Homo sapiens: one gene and its partners. Each later gene encodes a partner of the first gene's protein in a complex. Each region holds a gene or a part of one and is shown on either strand. Other genes may lie near its edges. A codon is read from its position in the direction of its gene.

Region 1 (7,788 bases):
GGGAACTGCAATCCCTCCGGCAGCCCATCAGCTGAGGCTGATGAGGTCCCTCCGGCACCTCATCTCTGGGTGAGGTGGTGGATGGTACTGCCCCACTGTGGGGTAGGCTACACCACCTCTAGTCCTATACACGTCTAACTAGGATTTCCATGGATTCCACTTAGATATCACAGAGGCAGTGACTGCAAACCAAGTTCAATGGGGATATCTATATCATTTTTGCTTTCTCTACATCCACAAACAAAACAGCTTTTTTAACCCGACCTACCTCCTACAGAACTCTGAACGGAGAAGGTGGAAAGGGCCTTCAGCGGAAGTCCAGGTTACTTACTAAAGCGGAATGGAAGCCAACAGATACCAGCGTTTATATTTTATTCAACTTTATTAAAAATTAAAACTACAGAAACCAAACCGAATGCACAAATAAGAGAGTGGGGAAACAGACAGGGAGCAATGGCAGCTGATAACTGTGGCGAGTGGATAATCCGCATGACTCACATCCCACCCCTGCGACTGAGGAGCCCAGAACGCTGCGCTGGCACTGTCGTGCCCTCTTCCACCACAGGGGCACAGAAACCTGCAGGAGACTGAAAACGATTACAAACATCTTCAACCAGCTCTCTGGCCAAAGGCAGCAAAAGCAGCCTGAATACGCAACTCACGCCAAGAGGGCAGCAGCTCTCCTGACATCCATGTAAGAAGGCTAACACCTAAACCACACGCAGGCATCCTGAACTCAGCAGCTCTGATCCAAGGTACTGAGTGGAGACAAAGCACTCGGAGGTGGCAAGATGTTCAGCAACCAAGTAAGACACACTGGCAAGGCATCCCACCCAAAGGTGAGAAGCACAAAGCAGGCTTGGAGAAACAAACAGTCATGCCAGGTGCAGCCAGACATCCTGCTATAAGCCCTGACCCTAGTACCCCGAGTTCATCAAGTGCTCTGGTTTTGTGTCCATAAAGCACAGAGGGCACTGACCACCCCAAACCAGAATCCCAAGGAATCCTTATGGATGGCATAGGGCCTCAGAACTGCTGCAGGATCATTTTCCTTTTCAGGTCGTGGCTGAACTTGTTCATCCTGAAGAGCTCACTGTCATAAAATGCAGAGAGGTTGTGGATGTTGATCTGACGAGCCTGCAAGGAGGAAGTGTCCAGTGAGCCATCAGTGGTGTGAGAACAGGCTGTTTCCAGAGCGCCCCAGTTACAGTGCACTTTCAGACACCATCACCTCCATTTATGGGAGGAAAATATCCAGGGGTGGAGAGGCCGATTAAGGGGCTTCAAATCTCTGCTGTACAAGCTGTGCGTGTAAACTGAGACAAGTTACTTGGCTGCCCTGTATCTGTCTCCACCTCTGCACAACAGGAAGGCAGTAACAGGACTCACCTCACTCCCCTGCTGTCAGACTACAGGCACAGAACTGGACTCAACAGACTGTAAGCATTCAATAAATGGCTGTCAACCAAGGCCCACCCACTTCATGACCCATTATGATGGAGCCCCCATCAGGAGACTGGCAGCTCCCAAGTCAGCATACCCCAACCCTCACCTCCCTTCCGGGCCCATACCTTATCCACCAAGTCCTTCTCAGGGACCTCAATAGTGTCCTGCTGGGCCCCAAAGCGGTTGCGCTGATATGTCACCTGCTCTGCCACTAACTGCTTCAGTATGAAGAGCAACAGCTCATTGTTGTCACGCCGGAATGAAAGGTAGCGGGCAAAAGTCTGCAGGAAAAAAGCCTCAGTCAAACACCCGCTCCCACTACGCCTGCCACACTCCCTTTACCCTACGTGCCAGCACCCAGGTCAGACAGGCTGCCGCTCCTGGGTGCACGTCCAGGCCAGAGCCCTGGATACCCACGTGTGGCCTCCTTCACTGAGCTTGCCCATCAGGCCCCTACCTCGGAGCACACCCACCTTGCGCATGCTGCGCATGACGCTGAACTTCTGTGTGTCTATGAAGCTCTCCAGCATCACGCGGATGGCCATGTTGACGTCGTCTTCGATCACATAGTCCCGCAGATGGATGCGCGCGTGGGCCTCCGCCATGCGGATCATGGACTCGATGTGCCGCACCGTAATGGGGATGCTGCCTGTCGCCTGGAGAGAAGCACAGTGTCAGGTCTTTCACGGGCAGGAAAGAGAAGCAAGGAAAATAAAGCAGCGGCACTCTTAGCACCCAGAGCCAAGAAGACCCATCTGACAGTGCCCCAGCAGAAATGCAGAATGCTTGACTGCGCTGCCCAGTGAATGCACACTTCCTATCCCTCCTGGAAATCAGAGGATGCCAGTGGATGCTGCATGCTTACGGCCTGTCACCATCACACCTGCACAGTTCTGCTCCCACCAGCTGACTTCTGTGCATCTCAGAGGCTGTTGTATTTGTGGCCAGCTGTATTGGTTATTGTCACACACTAAATATTGAATAATCCTGTACAATGTAAGTGCAAAAAAAGGTCGTTGTTTGTAGGAAAACTAAATTGAATGATCTGAAAAAACTTGGTAAAGTTAAAAGGCAGAAATTTGAAAAGCTGCTGTGTTGACTGGGTGTGGCTGAGGCAGCAATCTACAAGGACTCGGCATTCCCATGGCTTGCAAGCTGCTTTAAGTTTCCATTCCACTATGAATGAGCCAAAGACCTTGTGTTCATTAGAGTGAAATTTACACAAAGTCAATATGGAACTTAATAAGCACATCAACAATTAAGGCCTTGGCCCTACACTGAGACAAATGAATGCACATTTAAATTTCATCTAAAACAAAATGGTTAAGGTATATATTAATACCTATCATTTAAAAAAATATTTTTTTTTTGAAACAGGGTTTCACTGTGTCACCAAGGCTAGAGTGCAGTGGTGCCATCATAGCTCACTGTAGCCTCGAACTCCTGGGCTCAAGTAGATCTTCCTTCCTTAGCTTCCTGAGTAGCTGGGACTACAGGCACAAACCACCAGGCCCAGCTAAGTTTCAAAACATTTTTTGTAGAGAAAGGGCCTCACTATGTTGCCCAGCCTGGTCTTGAACTCACCTCAAGCAATCTTCCTGCCTTGGCCTCCCAAAGTGCTGGGATTACAGGCATGAATCACTGTACCCAACTTTCATTTTTTGTTTTTGTTTTTGAGATGGAGTCTCACTCTGTCACCCAGGCTGGAGTGCAGTGGTGCGATCTCAGCTCACTGCACCCTCCGCCTCCCGGGTTCAAGCGATTCTCCTGCCTCAGCCTCCTGAGAAGCTGGGATTACAGGCATGTGCCACCACACCCGGCTAATTTTTGGGTTTCACCATGTTGGTCAGGCTGGTCTCAAACTCCTGACATCGTGATCCTCCTGCCTCGGCCTCCCAAAGTACTGGGATTACAGGCGTGAGCCACTGTGCCTGGCACCTACATTTTTTTTTTAATGCCTCCCTGCTCTGGCACCTTTTGGCCTGACTGACCACCACCCCCGCTGCATTGGTCAGAAGGCTCACACTGCACTTCCTTCTCTGCATAGCACCTCCCGGCTCTGCCTGGGCTCTCACCATAGATTCTTTCCTCAGGTCACTGTACATCTTGGCCACCTTGTCCTGGTCCATCTGGTTGAGCTTCGGGTGGACCCTCTCCTTGGCGTAGATGATGTACTTCTTCAGGACCTCCTGGGGCAGGGGCTCCACGCCATACGTGTTGGGCATGGCGGGCTCAGCAGCGCTGCCATTGGCCAGCCCCTCCTCCTCCTTGTTGCTGGGGTGGTGTCTGACGTGGCTGCCCACCACGAAGCGGGCCAGCATCTCGTCCTAAGATAAGCCATGAGAGGGTGGGTCTGATTGTGGGTGTGCGTGGCTTTGGGGAGGTCAGTGGCTGGAGAAGGGCTGAGTGTGCCCTACAAGGGTGACACTCTTTCAACAAGACTGACTACACTGACCATGTGCCAGGCAGTTCTGGGTGTGGGTGGCAAACCAGACAATGGGACAGAGTCCCCACAGGGCTCATCTCCACAAGGGGACAGGAGACAAATAGTCTTAAAAATTAATTATGGAAAGTAATGCTCAGAAGAAAAATAGAGTGATAGGATCAAGGGACCAAGGAGATGCCTCTAGCTAAGGGTGCCCGGCAAAGCCCCTCCCTGAAAGACAGGGAGCTGAGATGACGACAATGAGATGCAAGTCATGTGACAGTGTGGGAGAGCGTCTGCCAGGAGCAAGGAGCACAATCAAGCCCCAAGGCTCGGCCCTTTTGAGAGAGAAGGGCAGGTGCAGGTGCAGGTGAGGGAAGGGAGCGAGGAGGAGGTAGCTGCAGAGATGGCGGGTGCGGGCCGGAGGGGAGGACCCTGGATTCTATTCTGATGACAGCAGAAAGCCTCAAGCAGTTGTTAAGGACGGGGCTGATCTGATTTATGCCTTCAACTGGAAGACAGTCTACATGGGTGCCAGGAGGCCAGTTCAGATGATGGTAGTGCCTCAAGTCAGAGGCAGAAGTGAGGGAGGTGGGTAGGCTCAGGAGTTGGGACAACAGGATTTGGTGGATTGTGGGTTATGTAGGGTGGGGGTCGGGGGTGCTGTGAAGGAAAGAGAAATCAGGGCGACTTCTGGACATGAGAAGAGACCGAGGGAACAGGACTAGAAAACAGCCTATGGCCCCTGCAGCACCTGTCCCCTGTGTTGGGCACACTGTATGACCCCAAGCCTCACCTGAGGTCCCCAAACCACAGTTCATGGAAACCGGGCACATGTGAGCTATACCTGGACTGGGTCCACGGTGTCCCTCACCACACACAGGATGTCAAAGCGTGAGATGATGGGCTCTGTGAGGTCCACGTTCTCAGAGAAAGTCAGCGAGGGGTCGTAGCGCCCTCCTGAAACACAGGGGAGCACCTCCATCAGGGTGGATTCCCCTATCCTCCCATCTCAGGGACCCCAGGCTGCTCTGATGGCAGAAGGGGATGAGGGCAGTGGAAGAGGAAGACATAGGTGGGTACTTAGCACCTGCTGTCTGAGACAGCAAAGAGCTTACCCTAACCAGGGCCCAAAATAGCCTAATTTAGACAGAAAGCATAACTGCTTCCCCAGGAGGAAAAACCAAGAACACAGTGGGTGACAGAGCCTGGGTTCTTTTACGCATTCGCTGCTGAGACCAACAGCCAACTCCATCCTGGCCAGAGGGGCACTGGGCTCTCCTCCCATGCCTTCTGAGAACATCCAAGGTGATTCCAGGAACATGACTCAACAGGAAACCCAGGTGTCCCAGGTCCCACTTTCACTGTTCCCCACTCTGGCAGGATATGCAGAAGAGGGGAACCCTCTGCTGCACAATGACTTCCTCAGATCGGCTCCTGGGGACCCCGTGGGCTCCCAATTCAAGCAGGCGGGACCTCCCTGTGTCCCACCCCAGCCCCAGCAGTCAGGGTGCCTGCTGCACCTATGGGGTTGGCGGCAGCAATGACCGTGCAGCGAGCCTGCAGGGAGGTGACGATGCCAGCCTTCGAGATGGAGATGCTCTGTTGCTCCATGGCCTCATGGATGCTGGTTCTGTCCTGGTCATTCATCTGCAAGATTAAAATGGCCCACCCTTAGCATGGTTCACGCCCCTACTACTAAGTCTCCGATGAGGTCCCAATGGACCCCATTAACACCATTCCCGTCGCTAAGGCCCAAGCCCACACACACCCCCTGAGTTCCACCAGCCTCCGTGACCCAGGGACCCACCTTGTCAAATTCATCAATGAGACACACTCCTCGGTCAGCCAGAACCAGGGCCCCAGCCTCCAAGGTCCACTCCCTGCTGACAGGGTGCCGCTGGACATACGCCGTGAGGCCCACAGCCGACGCCCCCTGGCCAGTGGTGAAGATGGCTCGGCTGGACACTTTCTCAATATACTTGAGAAACTGCGACTTCGCTGTGCCAGGGTCTCCGCACAAGAGCACGTTGATATCACCACGTACCTTGTGCTTGCCACCTGGAGGGGATGAGTAGAAGCGGGGGAGGGGGAGAGTGGGAAGTGAGAGGAGGAGGGCACAGTTGCATCCCCCACCAATTCCTCAACCTACTTGTTAGGAATGGTAAGGCACAGTCCCTCTAGAAAGGGATACAATGCCCTACGCCATGCAGTCCCACTCTGGGCACTCCCAGGGAAACACACACGGGTGCAGAGGAGGGTTGCACGAGATGTCCTTGGCGAATGTGAAATATCAGAAACAATCTAAGTGTTCTCCAAAGGGAGAGCTAAATAAACTGCGTTATCTGGTGGCATGATAGTCATTTAAAAGAAGGCAATTGCTCTGTATGCACTAACAAGAAAAGATGCTGCAGTGTGGCACTGAGCGGGAGAGCTCGGTGGGATGCACTGCGCACAGGCACAGCACTGGGCACACACAGGGGACGCTGCGCTTGTACAAATAAACACGTGTAGTCATGAAACCCTGTGGTTGCTGTGTAATTGTAAATGGCCACAAAGGGAGGGACTAGGAAGAGAAGTGGGGGTCAATGGGGAAATCAGCCTCACCCATGACTTTTAGTGTTCTATAAAAGTGTAATATAAATACAAACTCATGTGTCAATAGTATTTTTGTACTTAAAACAGGTTTTTAAAAGACAAAGTATTTTTTACATAGAAGAGAAGCAAAGACTCATTTGCTTAAATCACAAAAGCAGGCAGACACTGGCTCCCTGACCAACAGCCCAACACCCAGAATGCCCAACTCAGGGCCACCCTCTCCCTTGAAGAATGAGTCACGCCCAGCCAGACCATCTTTTAATGCATTCTTTCTCCCCAGCACCCAGGCTTTAAAAACACTGTGTCCTTCTTTGAATGCTGGCTCCCCAAAGAGAAAGCTGCTAACACCCCTGCAGAGGAAAGGTGGGTGCTCACCTGGGTTTTTGGGCTCCCCTCCGAACAGGGCCAGAGCCAGGCCTCTCTTGATGTCTTCATGACCATAGATGGAAGGAGCAATGCTGGCAAAGATCTGAGAAAGGGAGGGAGACCGACAAGAATGGGAACAGATACTCACAGAGTAGGTCACCCACATGCTCTGGCATCAGGGAACCACGACATCCCCAGCTCAAAGACACCCACTTCCACAGCTGCTGCAACTGCATCAGGCCCTGGTATCAAGCCGTGCCCGACTCTAAAGCTTTTCATTAGTTGGCTCTTCCCAAGAGTCACAGAACTTTGGAGTTTAGAAGAACCTTCATCTGAACCCCTAATCTTGACATATTTCAGAAAGGCCTTTCCCAAGATCACAGACCAAGAGCAGAAATAAGACCAGAACCAGGTCTGTCATGGCACTGGCCTACCTCAAGCCTCAGTTTCTTCATATGGAAAAGAGAGATGGCAACATCCAACTCACAGAAGGGTGGGTACAAATGCGACAGTTCATGCAAGTGCCTGCCTCGTCAATGCAATAAATGTGGCACATCTGGGAGATGTGTCCACCAGGAAGTAATTCCAACTAGTGAGTCACTGGAACATTTCTATTTCAGTGTGTGTGTGAGAGAAAGAAAGAGACAGGGAGAGAGCAAAATCTTCATGAATTTTAGATAGAATTAGAGACATCAAAGACATTTCTTGCTTGTAGGAGACTGCTTCCAACTCCACCTGCAGCAGAGCCATGTTTTGATAGCTTTCAGCCTTCATACCCCCCTGCACTGGCCACACCCACATCCTTCCCTCCTTGTAGGACAGACAAAGAAGCTCAGAAAGCACTGGCCCTCGCCTGGGGAGAGGGGACTAAGGCAGGAAAACCAGCCCTGAAGGTGGAGGGGAGACACCCCCATCAGGCTGCATCCTGTATGTCCTGCCTGCACCATCAAATT
Region 2 (7,055 bases), on another chromosome or scaffold:
TTTTGAATCTGGAGGCCCCTTTTGTGGACTCCTTTGTAAGACTTTGGGTGACTGGTATTTTATGCTAAAAATAGGAATAGTATGTTTTGAATGGCCATCTGTCAGTTTACGTTTTTTAAAGTAAGGGGAATATTGTTAGGGAAGTAGACATCCACTGTCTCCTTGCCGGGGAGAAGTAGTACAGAGTTTGGCAAGTGAGGAGCATGGTTTGCATCCATGCACTGGGTCAGATCTCAGACCTCAGTTCTGTGAGACAGAGTTCCTAGGGAAGCATTGGCTTATACTGTGTTATAATAAGTGAAAAATCTGTTACTTTTAGGTCTTGCTGGCTTTTTCCCTCTGCATCCTATGATGATCACAAATGCTGAGAGACTGCGAAGGAAACGGGCACGTGAAGTCCTGTTAGCTTCTCAGAAAACAGATGCAGAAGCTACAGATACAGAGGCTACAGAAACATAAATGAGCTGACTTTAGTGAGCATAGCAGTGGGAACAAGGTCAAGGTCCTTTTGAAACACTGCAGCGATCTTAATTTTGTTAGATTTGGAGTTCAATAAATGGAGTATCCTGAGTTGCCCTTGCTCTTCTGGCCTGGCCTGCACAGGGCCCAGGGAGAGATTTGTTCTTGTGTGACTTAGAGCTGGGTGTGGGTACTAATTAGCTTTTTTCGACTTTGTCTTGGGATAGACAGTGGCTATGGGAGGATTGGACTTTTGAGTTGGGCTCTGGGTCTCTTGGACAACTTTACAATTTACTGGCTTCCAAGACTTCCTGCTTCAAAACCCCCAGCCAGACTATTCATGGCCCATTCAGATCTTCATGTTCATCCCACAAGTGCAAGAACAGTTAACCTTTCTTAATTGATTTTTGTAATTGGAGGTTTATATTGTCTTGCCTAATGCATATTCTCTTTTTTTTTTTTTTTTTGAGACGGAGTCTTGTTCTGTTGCCAGGCTGGAGTGCGGTGGTGCAATCTCAGCTCACTGCAATCTCCACCTCCTGGGTTCAAGAGGTTCTCCTGCCTCAGCCTCCTGAGTAGCCGGGGAGCTACAAGCATGCACCACCACACCCAGCTAATTTTTTTTTTTTTTTTGAGAGGAGTCTCGCTCTGTCGCCCAGGCTTGAGTGCAGTGGCGCGATCTCGGCTCACTGCAAGCTCTGTCTCCTGGGTTCATGCCATTCTCCTGCTTCAGCCTCCCGAGTAGTCCCAGGAGTAGCTGGGACTACAGGTGCCCACCACCACACCCAGCTAATTTTTTTGTATTTTTAGTAGAGATGGGGTTTCACCATGTTATCCAGGATGGTTTTGATCTCCTGACCTCGTGATCCGCCCGCCTTGGCCTCCCAAAAGTGCTGGGATTATAGGCGTGAGCCACCGCCCGGGCAAATTTTTGTATTTTTAGTAGAGATGGGGTTTCACCGTGTTGGCCAGGATGGTCTCAATCTGACCTTGTGATCTGCCCACCTCGGCCTCCCAAAGTGCTAGGATTACTGGCGTGAGCCACCACTCCTAGCCTTAATGCATATTCTTAAATATACAAAGGTAGATTTGTTATGAAAATTGCTTTGGGGCTCTAATAACCTACCTTTTAAGAATGAGAAACTGCTGGGCTTAAGGGAGTTCAGTATGAATCAAGATTGAACCATTCAAATGTGGCTGTGATTTCTGCATATATCATAGATGGGATCCTTCTGAGAATACTGGAATAGGGAATTAGGACACCAAGCCAATTCAGCTGTGAACCTTATTCTTGTACTTTTCTTTCTTGCTGGTAATTTTATGGAGCAGGTTAAGAAGGCTGCTCTGTGTTAGGATAAACTGTATACCAATAATGTTGACAACCTGTAATGAGTGTTGCATTTTACTTCTTGTATCTTTTCCTTCCTACCTTGATGCCAGTAATCTATAAGGGATCTTTATAGTTTGAATGTATTTGAATAACTTCAGTATACTTTAGTTCTACTTTTTTATTTGACTCACAACCATTCTTAGGTCTCAAGTATTCCCATGTGTTTTAAAAGCCTGAAGTCAGTGAGATGAAATTCAACATCAAGAATTTGAAGTAACTTGTAAGGAAAAATAATATAAAGATACCATTGGGGCAGTGGCTCACACCTGTAATCTCAGCACTTTGGGAGGCTGAGGTGGAAGGATCACTTGAAGCCAGAGTTTGAGACCAGCCTGTGCAACACAGCAAGACCCCGTCTCTACAAAAACTTAAAAAATTAGCTGGCTGTGGTGTTGCTCACCCATAGTTCCAGCTACTCGGGAAGCTGAGGCAGTAAGATCACTTGAGCCCAGGAGGCCGATGCTGCAGTGAACTGTGATTGTTCCACTACAGTCCAGCCTGGGTGACAGAGAAAAGAAAAAGAAAACATTACATAATTTGGCTAGAGCATAATAATTTGATTTTCTGGTTTTTGAAAATTTGAGTTGCAATAAAAGGATATTTCAGTGTGCGATTTCAATTTTCCGTAGCAAATGTATATATAGAAAAATGTTAAAATAGATGTATTTGAATACCTTAAAAAATACAAGAAACTGGAAGAAAGATAATATTGCAAAGCATCTACATATATCCTAGGCCTTTTGTGTACAAGGTTATTTGTGACAATTGTAAGGTATTATGAAGGCAGGTAGGATTATCTCCGTTTTACAGATAGGGAAGCTGAGGCCTAGAGGTGGAAACTTGCCCAGTGATGTAAGATTCATCTCCCGGTTATGCCCTCCTGGAAAGCCCTTCCCAACATATTATGTTGTCCATAGAGGGAAAAATGAGCAAAGACAGATGGCTTAACTCTGGTGTGTGACTAAGATATAGGAAATTTATAGAGGAGGTTCTATCAATGTGCCGACTTACTTTGTGTTTTATGTTCTGAGAACGATTACCAGCCATCTCAAATTCTGTGGTTGTCAAAGCTCCCCTGGGGTTGTTGCTGGTTGGCCCCCACTTGCTTTGAGACTTTGATGCCAGGGCAGGTTGAGAGGAACTGACTTCAGCTGAGTTTGATCTTGGATCTGGGAAAGAGAAATGCTTTGAAAATCACGGCAACTCTGGGAAGTTTAAAAGATATTAATGTATCCTGGAGAGTTTGAGGCTTTGCAGAAACTTATTGGCAGAGCAGAATGATTCTGAAAAATGCTACATCAGTGAGGGGATATTTGATAAGGTATTTTCTGCCAACTCGGGTATTCACTTAGCATTGTTTATCCTTTAAGATATGTATACACATACTTCCTCTGTGAGTTTACCCTACTAACAAAGTTTTATCCCCAGCCTCAACCTTGCTTTGGGTCTCCAGGCCCAAGTTTCTCACCATCTCTTGGATGATTGCTCCAGCCCACTCTGCTGCCACCTGGGATCCAACATGTTCAAACCCAGCTGTGAACTTCACAGAGTATTAAAAGAAAGAGCCTTTGCTTCAGCAGTTTATGTTATTAAGACGGAGGCTTGGGTCATGTTATCTCTCTCCACCAATGTGTAAGGTGAAAGTCCTATTAGGTAAGAGTTTTTGGAAGACCCGTGTTTTGTGCTTTTTGGGTTTCAGTATAGGGTTTTTTCCTACAGGGCTAGAGGGAAAGTACCCCAGCATTTCCAACCAGTGGGGTGCAAAATTATTTGGGTCTACAGCTTTACCTATTCCTTTCAAGAACATTTTTGAAAAAACACATCTGTTAAGTTGAACCATGTGTAACTGCTGAATGCTGATGTTTGGCCGTTTTCTACTTAAAAAAATAGGCCAGCAGTTTGTAAATTCAAGCTAATATATGAACTTTTTGAAAAAGTTGTTCTTGGACACTAAAAGGTAAGACGGACGCCAGATTTCCAGAGCAAGGGGAGGAGAGACCCGAGCAACATCACTTCCCTGAAGACCTAGCTCCTGCGCGCGGCCGGGGACTGTGACTCCACATGCCGGCGTTACTTACCCGGGCCCGCGCCTGACTCGCCACACCTCATTTTGCGGCCGCCGTAAAGCGCGGATGCGCGGCGTGGCCACGCCCCTTCAGTGCTTGTGACGCAGGCGCCCTGGGCTTTTTGGGCGCGAAAAAGAAGCAGTCCTGGGTTGTACCCGGCGCAGCTGGGAGCGGCTGCTTCCTCCGGGGTCGTATCTCCGCCCGGCATGGGGCTGCTGGACCTTTGCGAGGAAGTGTTCGGCACCGCCGACCTTTACCGGGTGCTGGGCGTGCGACGCGAGGCCTCCGACGGCGAGGTCCGACGAGGCTACCACAAGGTGTCCCTGCAGGTACACCCGGACCGGGTGGGTGAGGGCGACAAGGAGGACGCCACCCGCCGCTTCCAGGTATGCAGGGTCCCGCCCCGAAGCCGACCGGCTGCGCGGGCCTCCCCCTAGCCTTTTGGCTACCGGGCCCCGCCCCGGGGGAGCGCGCTGAGCTCCGCTTGGCGCCTTCTGATCTTTATTTCTCGCGCCGCCGTTTCGGTGGGAGGAGCAGGGGTGATTTACGGATACTCTTTGCCCTCAGATCCTGGGAAAAGTCTATTCCGTTCTCAGTGACAGAGAACAGAGAGCAGTGTACGATGAGCAGGGAACAGTGGACGAGGACTCTCCTGTGCTCACCCAAGACCGAGACTGGGAGGCGTATTGGCGGCTACTCTTTAAAAAGGTAAAGGACTCTGGAGGTTTCTTTGTGACTGTTACCATCATTCAATCAACAAACCTTTATTGACTGCCTCTAAGATCTTGTATTTTGTGTTAATTTTGTAGGAATTAGGAATTTTGAGTTTGGCCTTGAAATACAGATACACGCACGCTTACTGAAACGGGCTTTAAATTTCCTGTTAATGTGATTGTTGCACTGAAAAGGGCCGATTTATTTTTTTTGCCGGATGCGCTTTATTTTACATATCCAAATGTAAGTCCTGATTCCGGATCACCTCTCACTCTTGGAAATTTCACTTAAATTTCCCTTCCCTGGTCCCTAGTTAGCAGTTAATGAAGATTGGATTTAAAAAGGAGGACTCCGGAGAAGCTTAGGCATAGAAAATCTGGTTCAATAATTTCAACTCAAGCAACTGTTGTATTGCAGCAATTCAACACCCAACTCTAGTTTTACTAACGTACGTTTTATTTAAAGTAAAATTCCCAAAGTTAAAGCAAATCTCCTTTATCATCAGATATCTTTAGAGGACATTCAAGCTTTTGAAAAGACATACAAAGGTTCGGAAGAAGAGCTGGCTGATATTAAGCAGGCCTATCTGGACTTCAAGGGTGACATGGATCAGATCATGGAGTCTGTGCTTTGCGTGCAGTACACAGAGGAACCCAGGATAAGGAATATCATTCAGCAAGCTATTGACGCCGGAGAGGTCCCATCCTATAATGCCTTTGTCAAAGAATCGAAACAAAAGATGAATGCAAGGAAAAGGAGGGTAAGATTTTGAATACTGTGGATTTATATTTTGACTGCTTCCAAAAAGGATTTGAGAGTATTTACAGCAGTAGAAGTAAACATAAAACTCCAGAAATAAGGACTAGGGTTAACTTGGTCTATAGTTTCGATCTAATAAAATGGGCATACCAGTTCATCAAGAGAAACTTTTTCTAGCATGTTGTGCTCAAGATGATTTTTATTGCATAGATTGTTTAAATATTACCATAGTAAAGTAGCACTGAAATATTTTTTCATGTAGGCCAATTCTTGTAGCATTCCTGAGGCATTCCTCAGGAGATAAAGTTAGTGGAACCCGGGTACACAGGATGGGCAGTGATCCTTACTCGGTTGAGGGGGTAAGAAGAGAATGGCAGACACCGTCTTGTTAAAAGTGCAGATGTTTGGGCCTTTGCCCCGAATTTGATTCTTGAGTTGGATACAGAATTTTTCTTTTCTTTTTTTTTTTTTTAAAGAAAAACTTTAGCTTAGCGGTCCCCAGCCTTTTTGATACCAGGTACCTGTTTTGTGGAAGACAGTTTTTCCAGTGACAGTGGGGGTGAGGAGAGTTGGGGGGGTGGTTCAGGATGAAACCTTAGATCATCGGGCGTTAGATTCTCTTAAGGAGCACACAACTTTTAGGACCACTGCTGCCTTCCTGAGTGCCCTCAGGAACTTTTCTGCAGCTTTTACATAAGAGACGCTGGCAGAGAGAAAGCTGACCTTTTTGTTTCCGGTGAAAATTTGAAGGGCCTGTTTTGCCTAGATAAGAGGCTGCACCCTTTCTGGTGAGCTTGAGGGGAACGGTGGAGTGTATATCAAGACCATTTTGGTTCATAGGCTACATCTGCTAAGACTCAAGCTGACAATTATCTTAAGTCGTTCATCATTTCCTGAGATGAAACTGAGCACAGCTGCATTCACAGTAGACTGTTAGCTTGAGAAACTTCCCTAGAATTTGAGGAGAAAATGGCATAGTTTTGATAGACTGTTCAACAAACCTTAGGGGGATGCTGAATTTAAAGAGAGAATTTGAATACAAGGAAACGGTGTCTTATTGGGATAGGGGGTCCTAATGTATCATCATCCTCAGTATTAATAGCATTAATTGCTACTTAGAAAATTCACAAGGGGTGTTGGGGCCTCTTATAGTTGTTGCCCTAAGGTGTTCTTGTGATATTTTGTAAACAATGCTCTAGGAACACTTGGCAAAGGAAGGCTGCTTTGAAATTAGGTAAATAGATGTTAAAACTGAGTTTATTGATGTTGGTTCTTCTGACTACTGGGGAGAAGTCATTTTAAACTGGGGTTGTTCACAAGGCACCACCAGTCCCATGGAGTAAATTGGGTTTCCAGGAGAGAAATTGGAAATACCTGTATCCTGGCAATTGCATCATTTGCCTTTTTTTTTTTTTTTTCTCTTTTTTCTAAGAGATGGCATCTCCATCACCCAGGCTGGAGTGCAGAGGCATGATCACAGCTTATTGCAGCCTGAACTCTCAGACTGAAGCCATCTTCCCACCTCAGCCTCCCTAGTAGCTGGGACTACAAGCACATGCCACCACACCAGGCTCATTTCTTTTCTTTTTTATAGAACTGAGGTCTCACTATGTTACCCAGGCAGGTCTTGAACTCCTGAGTTCAAGTGATCCTCCCACCTTGGCCTC
Region 3 (6,923 bases), on another chromosome or scaffold:
CTGTTACCTATTTTTACCTCAAGTACTTCTGCTACTCCCTTATAGTCAACTGAAACTCTTAAGAAATATCATAGAAAATCACAGAAAATCCTAATATGACTAGTACAGAATTCTTTTTTTTTTTTTTTTTTTTGCTTGAGACAGAGTCTCGTTCTGTAACCCAGGCTGGAGTGCAGTGGCATGATCTCAGCTCACTGCAACCTCCGCCTCCTGGGTTCAAGTGATTCTCCTGCCTCAGCCTCCTGAGTAACTGGGATTGCAGCCATGCACGACCACACCCAGCTTTTTTTTTTTTTTTTTTTTTGATACAGAGTTTCACTCTTGTTGTCCAGGCTGGATGGAGTACAATGCCGTGATCTCTGCTCACCGCGATCTCCGCCTCCTGGGTTCAAGCGATTTTTCTGCCTCAGCCTCCCCAGTAGCTGGGATTACAGGCATGCGGCACCACGCCCAGCTAATTTGTTGTACTTTTAGTAGAGATGGGGTTTCTCCATGTTGGTCAGGCTGGTCTCGAACTCCCAACCTCAGGTGATCCGCCTGCCCTCAGCCTCCCAAAGTGCTGGGATTACAGGCGTGAGCCACCACGCCTGGCTGACTCCCGGCTAATTTTGGTATTTTTAGTAGGGACAGAGTTTCGCTATGTTGGCCAGGGTGGTCTTGAACTCCTAACCTCAAGTGATCCACCTGCCTCAGCCTCCCAAAGTGCTGGGATTACAGGCATGAGCCACCACGCCTGGCCCAGAATTCTTAATATAGAATTGACAGTGAATCTAGCACTACGTTATTCTTGGGACCTGCAGGAATAACTTCTATCTTCAATGAACTTAATCAGAATTTTTAGTCAGAACATCTAGAAGAAGCCATTTAAAATTCAGATATGTAAGTTTTTTATCAATGTGGAACAAAAATTATTTTATTAAATTTAGTGAGGAGTTTCTGACAGTTTTTTGGTGTTCTAGACATGTAGAAATCTTTATCTGATCTGTCTTGAATTTACCCTGCTTTGATGTGCTAATAGAGGATATTATTGTAAATGTCAATTCACATAGTAAGAACAAGTGAACAACTTGCCATCAGGAGACACGAGTGATTTTTTTTTTTTTTTTGAGACGGAGTCTCGCTGTCGCTCAGGCTGGAGTGCAGTGGCGCGATCTCGGCTCACTGCAAGCTCTGCCTCCCGGGTTCACACCATTCTCCTGCCTCAGCCTCCCGAGTAGCTGTGGGACTACAGGCGCCCGCCACCTTGCCCAGCTAATTTTTTGCATTTTTAGTAGAGACCGGGTTTCACCGTGTTAGCCAGGATGGTCTCGATCTCCTGACCTTGTGATTCCCCCGCCTCGGCCTCCCAAAGTGCTGGGATTACAGGCGTGAGCCACCGCGCCCGGTCACAAGTGATTTTTTTTATGTGCATTTACTAATTCATTGTCTTACCCAGACCCCTTCTTAACAAAGGTAAGCATTTGTGAAATGGTTGACTAAAGTAAAGATACAATATAGTCATGGGGAAAAGAAGCAAAAACTGGTTAATATGAGTTTCGGTACAAAATCATTGATCTTAACTTTAGTATCAGAATGTTTCAACCAGCTAAGTCCAGCATTTCCTCCTTCCCATTACCACCAATCAAGCCTAGTATCGCTGTGCTTGTTTTGCCTCTTCTAAGGTACATTCAGTAAAAAAGCATTGTAAGCTAGGACTCTGTTGGCTTTGGTTTCTTTTCTTTTTTCCCCTTTCTTTCTTTTTATTATCTTCTATTCCCTCCTCCTAGGGTCATCACACTGAAACGGTGTTCAACCGGGTTTTGCCAGGGCCTATTGCACCAGAGAGCAGCAAGAAGCGGGCCCGTAGGATGCGACCAGACCTTTCTAAGATGATGGCCCTCATGCAGGGTGGAAGCACTGGGTCTCTATCTCTGCATAACACGTTCCAACACAGCAGTAGTGGCCTACAGTCTGTGTCATCTTTGGGTCACAGCAGTGCCACTTCTGCATCTTTGCCTTTTATGCCATTTGTGATGGGTGGTGCACCATCATCCCCTCATGTAGACTCCAGCACCATGCTTCATCACCACCACCACCACCCCCACCCCCACCATCACCACCATCACCATCCAGGCTTGAGAGCCCCTGGCTACCCCTCTTCACCAGTGACTACCGCCTCTGGTACTACCTTGCGGTTGCCACCACTGCAACCTGAGGAGGATGACGATGAGGATGAAGAAGATGATGATGACTTATCTCAGGGCTATGATAGCTCAGAAAGGGACTTCTCACTCATTGATGATCCTATGATGCCAGCTAACTCAGACTCCAGTGAAGATGCTGATGACTGAAGCCCCAGCATGGGCCCCATTGCTTGGGCGGCTGCTGTATTTTCATTTACTCTGGCCCTTGGACTATGGAAACGTGGGAGGGGCAGGGGAGATGTGGGGAAGTCCAGGACTCCAGGAGGTGAAAAGGAAAAAAAAAAAAAAATGTACCTGATTGCTCCCAATTATGAGAGGATTGGGTGGGCAGGGGAACTCCTAAAATAATACATGACCACTTCCTCATTTCTGGGGAAGGAAAGGAGACTAGAGCAGCTGGTGTGCTCACCCCTCCCTAGTCACCTCCATTAACCACAGACTATGTAGCGCTGGCCCTAGCCTCTGGCAGAGCCTGTTCCTGGCCGAACTGTGGATACAGCTGGAGGGTCAGGAACTGTTACCTTCTTTCCCCTTGGCATTAATAAATTTAAGTTAATCCTTTTCCACTCTTCCTTTGTTCTATGTTTGCTCAAACCCAGTGTATTGATTTTGAGTTGTTAATGGTGGGTAATTTCAGCACCACTTTCCTTAAGTTCAATACTGTTTATACTAAATTGCCTTACAGCAGACAAGTCATCTGTACTCCTCTAAAGGGTATATACAAATGTAGACTGTCCAGCTGGCTAAAGGCAAGGGAATTATTTAAGGTAAATGGTAGGTAGGCAAACTTCTGGATTCAAACTCCAAGTTTTTAGAAGAGACAGGGAGCAAGAATGTCATCAGGAACCATTTATGTTTTGTTTCTAATTAACTGAAGTAACGGTTATTTGGGGGAAGCCATAGAATAGTGCCAGTTTTCATGAACTGCAGCAAGGGGACTGGCCGACTGGAAGGATGCTGCCGCGACTTGGGCTCAGGGGGTGGGGTTGTGGGAAGGAACTAAAAGTTTGTAGAGCCCCTCAAGTCATCTGTTTCCTCTGACTTACACCATCCCACTGCTCAGTTAAAGCTTGCGCATATTATTTTCCTTTCGAAAACTAGGTTCCTCCCCCAGCTTGGGTCGTAGTTTATCACGAGGCTGGGCTCCATTTCCCTGGTATGAGTCCTCTGTCCCGGCGGAGCGCTTGACCCAGCATCCTGGCACCGAGGATCCCTCGAGTCCTGGAGCAGTCAAGGGCTTTTGCATTCCCATCATTTCTAGGAGGGGCGCATGCCCAGTTACACTGTAGTAGTCCCACTTTTATCCCACGCTAGATCCCGCTCTTTCCGCTCCCCCTTCCTTTGCAGATGGGGTGGAGCTATAACACCCGCGCGCGGCAGCTCTTGTGGGCGGGGCAGGCGCCGCCTCCTTCGCTTCGTCTAGGGACTGCCGCCTCGGCAAAAAGTCTGAGGTCCTGGAAACCGCCGCTGGGCTGAGAGTTAATAAGGGCGGAGGCAGACCGTCACGTGACGACGTCGATTCGCGTGCGGCAGTGGCGAAGTTGACAAACCCCGCGAAAATCGACTCTTTGCATCGCACATTTTGTTGATTTTCCCTCGTTTTTCTTTCTCTCTTTCCCCCGTCCATCCGAAAGAGGGTTGGAAAAAAACAAAACAAACAAACAAACAAAAAAAAAACCTAACGCTGTTGGGACCCGGAAGCGGAAAGGGCATCTTTGAGGTCGATACTTCCGGGTCATTGGGAGAGTGCGGGATTCCTGGGCCGAGAGCGGGTGGCTGAGCCGGGACCTCGCGTGATTCTCGGAACCCGAGGAGAAGCGGCGTCCGGGGCTATGGCTGTGACTCTGGACAAAGACGCTTATTATCGGCGAGTGAAGAGACTGTACAGCAATTGGCGGGTGAGGAAGATCCTGTAATTTTTCCTAGGGAGCCCCCTTAGCCATCCCATAATAACCCTGTTTCTCGGCGCCCTTTTTTCTCTTTCGGTCAGGAATTCCCGGGTTCTGTGCCTCACCCTTTTCGTTGCTCCCGAATCATTCACCGGAGGCGGCCACGAACGCTGCCCCTTAACAGGGAATCCCCCGCATTCACCCTGTCCTGCGGCCATCACCATCTTCCCCGCGTGCCAGCCTTGGTCATGCATAGCAGCACCTCTCGCAGTCTCTTCCCGCCCTAGAAGAGGCAACATCCTTCCCTCCTACTCCGTGGTCACGTCTTGCTGCCCTCCCCTGCCGTGTTCTCACGCACTCGCTCTGTCCCTCCAGAACCACAATATTCCACCCCTGGTCCCGCCAGGATTATAACCGTCTTCGTAAAGGAGAGATGGAAGGGCAAGGAGGATGTCAATCGGGCTTTTAGCGTTTATCGTTTGCGGGGCTTTTGCTGGAGTTAAAAAAAGAAATACTGCTCACGCGCAACCGCCTCATGTTCTAGGCCCTGCTGTGGGTTACAGAGAGGGACCTAACGCTGAAAGCCTGCAGGCATTAGTAATAACAAAACAAAACAAAACGATGCCTAAAACCTTATTAGTTCCTTGGTAGCGTATCCGGGGCACGTGTTCATTAAAAGAGCTGTGGCAGTTCCCAGTTTTTTAAAGATTCGGCAGTTTTGCTGCTCTAAAAACGTCCACAGTTAAAACTTATTTTTATGATGTTAACTTACTAATTGAGCAAACATTTGGTTGCATTCTGTGATGCAGTCTGAGTTGGCTAGCTTAAGTCTTGCCCCTGAACCCTGTCATCAAGGGAAGATACAGCTAATAAAGATTTTTTTTTAACCTGAAAAACGTTTTGAGAAAAATGATCAGCTCTCATTTCAGCATTGTAAATTATCTTTCAAACTGGTCATCTACTAAAACCAAGCCATTAAAATTGGTCGTTTCCTTGCCATTCATATTAAAGCTGTCTGTGCATGTTTCATCTTTTGGGGCTAAATACATTAGATAATTGAAAATAAAATTGATTCTCTTGCATTTTATGAAAAGGAAAAATAAGAACTAAATGCTAGATGAATACTGAACATTTTATTTTTTTTAATTTTTTGATTAATTTCTACCAAATGATTTTTTGCAGCTTCTCTCAGTGTCATATTATTCAAACATAATCGATGTTAGAAAAACATTTTAAAACCTTGATACTTTCTAATGATCAGTAAGTACTAAAAATCCGAAGCCCTCTCTTGTACCCATAAACCCTGAAACTGTGAACCTTTGGTATGAAAATTGTTTCTAGTCCCAGTGATTCAGATTCATCAAATAATTTCATTCTCTCTATACCATTCATGAAAACTAATCTATAGCTCTCACTTCCTCTACATGACAAATTAACTGTGGCCTGAAGACAGGTTGGCAAACCTAATAAAACTGATAGTCTTTAAATCCATGAAAGTTATTTCCCACCCACCATTTTTTTTTGTATCTCAAAAATCTTTAAAGTTTATCTTGGCCCTCTTACTACCTTAATGACATCATCTTGGGAGAATGTTAGATATTGATAAGACACTGATGGTGTAAAGTTATGAGCCAAATCTATGTAAAAATGTACCAGTTAACAAAACCTGTGGCTATTATGAAAAACTTACTTGAATAAGACTTTCTGCTTTTGTGTTAATGTGTCCAGAACCCACCTGTAGAAGTTCTTTGTGTATGCAGTCTTTTCACCCTACAGTGCTTTCATTCTGATACACTTAATCAGAGATAGTAGTTTTCTGGGTTAAATCTAGTCGCTTATCCTCCTGGATATAGCAGAAAGATAGTGGGATATATAGGTGTGTTGTATAACTTTTCTCTTTTACACCTTTTCCTTTTTTTAATAAGAAAACTGGGATTGAAATAGAATAAGTTGAAGTTAATGGTAAAAATTCCAAACCTGGCTGGGCACCGTGACTCATGCCTGTACCCAGCACATGAGGCCAGGAGTTAAAGACCAGCCTGGGCAAGATGATGAGACCCCCGTCTCTACAAAAAAAAAAAAAAGGCAAATAAATTAACCAGGCATGGTGGTGTGTGCCTATAGTCCTAGCTACTTGTGATGCTGAGGCAGAAGGATCCCTTGAGCCCAGGAGTTTGAGGCTGCAGTGAGCTGTAATCGCATCACTGCACTCCAGCCTGGATGAGACCCCGTCTTTAAAAAATAAATTAAAAAAAAAAAAAATAAATCCCAAGCCTTTTGCTTTCAGCTTCCATCTTAAAAAAAAAAACTGTTATGACTAAAATTAACTAAAAAATGATTTGGGCTCCAAACCCACTTTTAATTTTAAATACTCTTGATTATAAGCCCTTAAAAGCTGTAGTGGTTGAACCTGGTAGTTCCAGCAGTCCAAATACAAGTACACAGGGTTGTAGAGAACTGATAGGCTACTAAGCTTTTTCTTCCCTTTTTTAAAAATAAGAATAGGAATTAACCTTACCTATCTGCAAGTTAATTTTCAGTTAGGTACATATTTTGAGGCTATTGCAAATAAAATATTTTTTAATTATAATTTTCATAACTTATGTCCTAAAAACAATTGTAGTTACCATGTACTTTTAACTGAATAGAAATTTCAAAAATATTAAGCCCTGTATCTAAGTAAATCGTGTCATTTTAGAGATGGGAAAATGGAGTCAGTCAAAAATCAACAGGAGACCTTAGAACGTACTATTGTTTTATGACTCCTGGAGGTTTGAGTCTAGATCCAGTCTTGCCTCTTATGTTTTAAGTGAGAGCTGCTAAGAGCAGAAAGGATTTGCAGCACCTTCTC

The links. The genes of interacting proteins can lie anywhere in the genome.
Region 2: the proteins of MCM2 (region 1) and DNAJC9 are in contact, whole or in part, in a crystal structure (PDB 7CJ0), measured with the Homo sapiens proteins. Residues at the interface, in NP_004517.2 of Homo sapiens: Glu65, Glu66, Glu67, Asp68, Glu104; in NP_056005.1 of Homo sapiens: Lys185 (codon at 5,366), Arg189 (codon at 5,378), Arg192 (codon at 5,387), Lys244.
Region 3: the proteins of MCM2 (region 1) and SUPT16H are in contact, whole or in part, in a crystal structure (PDB 8YJF), measured with the Homo sapiens proteins. Residues at the interface, in NP_004517.2 of Homo sapiens: Ile73, Gly74, Asp75, Met77, Tyr81; in NP_009123.1 of Homo sapiens: Gln898, Ser899, Leu900, Asn901, Lys904.

The regions. Positions count from the first base shown.
Region 1 is NC_000003.12:127,615,012-127,622,799, reverse strand, and holds the end of MCM2 (DNA replication licensing factor MCM2), read right to left. Parts: intron 6,939-7,788; coding exon 6,845-6,938; intron 5,933-6,844; coding exon 5,682-5,932; intron 5,522-5,681; coding exon 5,395-5,521; intron 4,832-5,394; coding exon 4,719-4,831; intron 3,774-4,718; coding exon 3,522-3,773; intron 2,103-3,521; coding exon 1,920-2,102; intron 1,728-1,919; coding exon 1,572-1,727; intron 1,138-1,571; coding exon 1,027-1,137; 3' UTR 364-1,026; downstream 1-363. UniProt on the Homo sapiens protein: Acts as a component of the MCM2-7 complex (MCM complex) which is the replicative helicase essential for 'once per cell cycle' DNA replication initiation and elongation in eukaryotic cells.
Region 2 is NC_000010.11:73,244,256-73,251,310, reverse strand, and holds the start of DNAJC9 (dnaJ homolog subfamily C member 9), read left to right. Parts: upstream 1-4,055; 5' UTR 4,056-4,121; coding exon 4,122-4,301; intron 4,302-4,482; coding exon 4,483-4,623; intron 4,624-5,134; coding exon 5,135-5,389; intron 5,390-6,806; exon of another isoform or gene 6,807-7,055. Other genes in the region: MRPS16 (small ribosomal subunit protein bS16m), read left to right, coding at 320-459.
Region 3 is NC_000014.9:21,381,020-21,387,942, reverse strand, and holds the start of SUPT16H (FACT complex subunit SPT16), read left to right. Parts: upstream 1-3,923; 5' UTR 3,924-4,015; coding exon 4,016-4,081; intron 4,082-6,923. Other genes in the region: CHD8 (chromodomain-helicase-DNA-binding protein 8), read left to right, coding at 1,767-2,330. UniProt on the Homo sapiens protein: Component of the FACT complex, a general chromatin factor that acts to reorganize nucleosomes. The FACT complex is involved in multiple processes that require DNA as a template such as mRNA elongation, DNA replication and DNA repair.